Linked DNA regions of Homo sapiens: region 2 is linked to region 1. The links come from fine-mapping of genetic effects on plasma protein levels. A gene starts in region 1. The other region holds a variant in brackets. All regions are shown on one strand. Distances are between the middles of the regions. Region 1 holds the start of SCRN1 (secernin 1). Region 2 overlaps SCRN1 (secernin 1).

Evidence for each region. A credible set is the group of variants that fine-mapping cannot tell apart. PIP is the chance, under the fine-mapping model, that this variant and not a neighbour inherited with it causes the effect. The UK Biobank Pharma Proteomics Project read protein levels with antibody pairs (Olink). The fine-mapping took linkage between variants from a reference panel, not from the people measured, so its PIPs are less certain.
Region 2: its variant is the best candidate, but not a certain one, in a credible set for the plasma level of the SCRN1 protein (UK Biobank, PIP 0.85). The variant lies in the coding sequence of SCRN1. If it changes the protein, the assay may bind it differently, which can mimic a change of level.

The regions. Positions count from the first base shown.
Region 1 is chr7:29,988,729-29,991,742 of GRCh38, reverse strand. It overlaps SCRN1 (secernin 1), which reads left to right and starts at 1,942. Exons shown (of 8, transcript NM_014766.5): 1 at 1,942-2,101. It overlaps FKBP14-AS1 (FKBP14 antisense RNA 1), which reads right to left. Exons shown (of 3, transcript NR_187577.1): 1 at 2,950-3,014. RefSeq lists silencers at 1,816-2,155, 2,176-2,225, 2,236-2,505, 2,596-2,715.
Region 2 is chr7:29,925,539-29,928,038 of GRCh38, reverse strand. It overlaps SCRN1 (secernin 1), which reads left to right. Exons shown (of 8, transcript NM_014766.5): 7 at 1,407-1,587. Among named protein-coding and RNA genes, the nearest start is that of FKBP14-AS1, 62 kb to the left of the region's middle. The variant A/G (reference allele first, on the strand shown) is at 1,514.

The DNA.
Region 1 (3,014 bases):
AGGAGGTAGAGGCTGCAGTGAGCCACTTCCCTCGAGGCTGGGTGACAGAGCGAGATCCCATCTCAAAACAAACAAAAAATAAAACAGCGACTCTGAGACTTTTAAAAAAAGTTTAATATTTATTTTAAGTTCTGGGGTATATATGCAGGATGTGCAGATTTGTTATATAAGTAAACGTGTACCACGGTGGTTTGCTGCACCTATCAACCCATCACTTAGGTATTAAGCCCAGCATGCATTACCTATTTTTCCTAATGCTCTCCCTACCCACACCTCACGGACTTTCAGACTTTAACATGCAAGAGAAACAACTAAAGAGCTTGAAAAATGCGGGTTCCCTGGCTCCAGCCCCAGAGACTCTGAATTCCATAGATCTGGGCTGGAACCCAGGAATAAGCCCGCTAGAAATTTCTAATATTGATTATTTAGACTCATTGGCTACAGTTTTCTTGGCTAGACTAAAAGAACAGTAAAGTACCTTTGTGCTCCAAGAGTCTACGAACCAATGCTCTATTCTGCAGTACCTACACCAACTTCCTCAGCCCTTCCCCACTATCCGTTTACTCATGTGTCAGACTGTAAGCACAGGCTCAACATTCAAAGGGCATGGAAAAAAGTCTCCTTCTCTCCCCAGCACCCAGTCTCCCAGTTCTGCTCCCTGGTGGCATCTATTACAGGTTCTTACGTACTCTTCCAAAGATACTCTGTGCATTTACAAAAATAAGTACAGACATACATATATATTTTCTTCCCACAAATAACACACACAACGTTCTGCACCTAGCTTTTTATTTTTCTTTAGTTAGTATAGGTTGGAAATAGTTTTGTATTAGCAAATAAAGATCATTCTCCTTTTTAAAGGAAGCTGGATAGTAGAGGCAGGCGGATTGCCTAAGCTCAGGAGTTTGAGACCGGCCTGGGCAACATGGTGAAACCCCATCTCTACTAAAAATCAAAAAAAATTAGCGAGGCTGGTGGCGTGGGTCTGTAGTCTCAGCCACTTGGGAGGCTGAGGCACGAGAATCGCTTGAACCCGGGAGGCGGGAGGCGGGAGGCGGGAGGCAGGAGGCGGAGTTTGCAGTGAGCCGAGATCCTGCCACTGCATTCCAGACTGGGCGACAAAGCAAGACTCAAAATGTTTTGATTTTTGTTAATCTGGCTGGTGGAAGATGCTACCCCACATATTTGATTTGCAGTTAAGTGAGCCTGAATATCTTTTCGTGTGCCAGGATAGAATTGCATTTATTTTCCTCTGAATTACGTCTTCATATCTTTTGAGATAGTCTTTTCTTATTTACTTATAAAAGATGGAGTTGACGCTGGCATCAACACACACACACACACACACACACAGACACACAACACACAAGTCCCTGTACATAACTTTATTAACCCAGATATGGAATCTTGGCTTAGTTACGTGCTGTGTGACCTTGGGCAAGTTACTTAACCTCTCTAGGCCACAATGTCCAAGTACCTGGGACAGGGTCTGGCTTACCAACATGGTACAGGACGGCACTTTTAAAACCAGGGACTCGACTTGGACGTGCGAGTCAACAAGGTACAGGACACATTTCTCTCCGGGGAAATCTTGTGTGGGCGCCGAGGCCCGGACGTAGCAACCAAACGTCGGGAAGAGGCGCCAAAAGGATGCTGGGCCTGGCTCCTTGAAGCCCGGGTTTTCCCTTTTGAGAGCCACAACCAAGAAATAAAAATCTAGCAAAGAGGGGGCCACTTTCTGCGGCGAGATACGCCCTCTCGGCCGCTCCTCCAGCTCCCAGGCCCCCTCCCTACTCGACGGTGAGCAGCGCCGCGGCCCGTGCAGCCAGACGCGCGGGGTGCGGCGGGGCCCCGGGGGCCGGGGTGGGGGAGGCGGAGGGTGGGCCCGCGGTCACGTGAGTCGGGCCAGCTGCTGCGGGGGGCGGCGGGCCCCAGCGCCGGGAGTCTGGGTAGGGGGAAGCGCCCGGCGGCCGCCTCCGCCACTGCAGCTGCAGCCCCCGAGGTCGCCGCAGTAATCCGGACCCGGCAGCACCCGCACCCTCGGCGGCCGCAGCCTCAGCACCGCAGAGCGGAGAGCGGAGCCCGGAGCCCGCCGCCCCAGGTGAGCCGCGTCTGGGAGCGCAGGGCGTTTGCAGCGCTGCTTTCCCGGCGGTTTCACCCCACCCGCCATCGCCACCTCCTGCGTTTCATCTCCTCCCGCTGTCCCTCCGAACCCGCGGGTAGCGTTACCCCAGGCCGATTCCCGGTGCTGGCCCGGGCGGGCTGGGAGCCTGGGGGCGGTCAGAGGAGAGGTGGCCTCGGCCTGAAGCCGGGGTGACTCGGCTCGGGGACTGCGGGGGTGCAGTGGAGGGATGCCGGCCCCGGGCTCCCGCACCGCAGCCGGGTTCCCCGCGCTGCTCTTCCTGGGTTTCCTTTTCCTGGCAGCCAACCTGCTGCCCACTGGGATGTGCCTGTGGGCCCCTGGCCTCGCCACCCTGGGGTCTGGGGCGAGCCGGGCACCTTCCCCGAGGTGCCGTACCTGCTGCGCGGGCGGGCGCCGCGAACATGGCTGCCCGGAGACGCCCGCCGCCTTCGGCCCGGCTCTGCCAGCGCGTCCAACTCGCCCGCGGCCGCCGCACCGTGTCCCGGAGCAGCCCTCCCCGCTAGGCCGACGCGCGCGGGCCGCCCCTGGGTTCTCCGCGGGCCGCGCGTGGGACTTGACACAACTTCCCTCGAGCCGCACCCGGGCGTTCTCCGCGGGGCGCCGGGCGGGGCTGCCGAGAGGCCGGCTTGGTCGGCCTCTGCCTCCTCGGCTCGCTCTTGAGGCGTCGAGTATTTGGCGACCTCACTCGCGAGGGCCGAGAGAAATGTGGTCTGCAAAGCAGGAGGGGCGCTTGAACTTTAGAGAATTGGCGAGAACTCGGATTTGGGAATAAAAATGTCCATGAAAACATCGAAGGAAACTGTTACCTGCTTTGACTCAAAGCTGACCTTGTAGGGTTCTGTTAAATAACGTGGCTTTTCTGGATTTTCTG
Region 2 (2,500 bases), 63 kb after region 1:
CGACTCTTCCACCTCAACCTCCTGAGTAGCTGGGATTACAGGAGCACTCCACCACATCCGGCTAATTTTTTTTTATTTTTAGTAGAAACGGGGTTTTACCATGTTGGCCAGGCTGGGCTCGAACTCCTGACCTCAAGTGATCCACCTGCCCCAGCCTCCCAAAATGCTGGGATTACAGGTGTGAGCCACCATACCTTGCCCATACCTGAAAATATTCATACCTGTGTGCCATACTGGCAAGGCTGCCCTGGCTTCCTCAAGCTCCAGATGCCCCAGGGCTGAGGGAATCAACATCCTAGCTCACCTCTAGCCCACTTGAGGTACCCGAGGTGGGCCACAGTGCACCTGTTGAGAGGAGAAAAAAATGTCCAAATCTGACAAATCTGACCTATACATATGGGGCACATATGGGGAGTTCCTTCTCTCCTGCTGTTATTGCAGGTGCTGCCCCATGGTACAGCTGAAAACAGGCAATCCTTGGGACGCAGAGGTGCCCATGCCTGCCAGGAGCAGCCCTCTGATCCAGCAGTGTTTCCTCTGGATGTGGGGAGGGTAGGATAAGGCTCTCTCCCCGGCGTTACAGTTGGCCATAGTGGTCCCTTAGCCCGTTGGCCTGGGATCCCAGGCCACAGCTGTTTATATGCGTGGCTCTTGTGTGTGTGTGTGTGTGTGGGTGGGTGGGTGGGGGGGTGATGTATCCTAGACTTGTACAAGTACACACACATGCAGGCATACGCACAGCCATTTTCCCGAAGATAACATCCATCCTGCCGAGAGAACTGAATTGAAGAGAGCTGGGGGGCATTAGCTACCTGCTGTGCCCTGTGCTAGCTCTCTCACACAACCAGACTTCTGTGTGGTGTGCACCCTCCAAGGCCTCTTCTGTCATCTTTCTTACTCTGTCCCCTCCTTGGGTCTGTCAGAGATATTCCATAGATTTTTCAGTAAGGTAGAACCTCAGAAAAAAACTAAAAACAAACCCAAACCAAAAGGCCCTTCCTTTCCCAAAGGCTGCTTCTCAGACCACGGTATTAAAAAAAAAAAAGGCAAACCTCTCTCGCTCAGCTAGATGGCTCCTTGCACCGTTTCTCAGAACACTGTTTGTTTGCCTCACTTTTTATTGCTAAAAGAGTCCTCTCAAATGGTTCAGAACAAAGGAAGTCTGTTTTGATGTCTCTTTGCTGTAAGTAGAGGAATTTGCAGCTTGTAAATGGCTGCAGTTTTGCTAAAATAGCGACTAAAACATGCAGTTATGTCTCTCTTGGCACTCACCCACCCACCCGTCACCCACACCCACCACCCACCATAAGTTGGCTTGGGAAATGTTTGCTGAATAAAAGGACAGTCTCTGGGTGTTCCCGGGTCCCAGCCTCTGCCTGGCTGAAGTGCCTCTCCTTCCTCTCCAGGTCCATATTCAAGCCTTTCATCTTTGTTGATGACGTAAAACTTGTCCCCAAAACACAGTCTCCCTGTTTTGGGGATGACGACCCTGCCAAAAAGGAGCCTCGGTTCC[A/G]GGAGAAACCAGACCGCCGGCATGAGCTGTACAAAGCCCACGAGTGGGCACGTGCCATCATCGAAAGTGACCAGGTGAGCTTGCATGAGGGCCACAGAGGCGGAGGCGGAGGCGGGCGGGCGAGGTCAGCGAGGAAGGAGGCAGGGAAGCAGATGTCAAGCTAGACCCTACCCCCACCCATCCAGTGTGACCGGGCTTCTCCCAGAGACCAGGTTCCTGGGGCCTTTCCTAGAAGGCTGGTGTCCATTTTCCTGCCCAGGCTCTTGAAACCAAATAAGACAAAGCTTCTGCTTCTCATGTTATTTTGGAATTCAGCAGGCTGAGTATCTTACTTACATTTACTGTTTACGTAGGAATAATAGGAATATGCAGTACGTTAGGGATAACTGTTATATATTGTGTAAAATTCCTTATGTACTTTTGGGGGTAAAAAGTTGTTATTTGCTGGCAACATTTTATTAAAGATACAATCATATGTTGTTTCAAAAAAGTTCTGGAGTTGGCTGGTGGTGCTGGTTGCACAACATTGTGAATGAGCTTAATGCACTGAACTATACATTTTAAAGTTTTTAAATGGTCAATCTTATGTTATAATACATATGTTTTACCATAGTACAAACATAGTTTTAGAAAATATTCTCATATTCCTAGGGTTTTTTTTTTTTTTTTTTGTATTTTTAGTAGAGACGGGGTTTCACCCTGTTGGCCAGGCTGGTCTTGAACTCCTGAGCTCAAGCAATCCACCTGCTTCTGCCTCCCAAAGTGCTGGGATTACAAGCAGGAGCCACCGCGCCCAGACTCATATTCCTAGTTTTAAAAAAGAAGTCGTAATCCTTCAAAGTGCAGCTCTCCCCAGTCCCACACCTTTGGTTAATAAAGTGATAAGTCATCAATTCAAACAAGAAAACCACCCAAAGCACGTTCCACAGCACCCAGTGTGTCCACAGCAGCCACCCCGATGGACTTTATATAAATTCAAGCCTATAT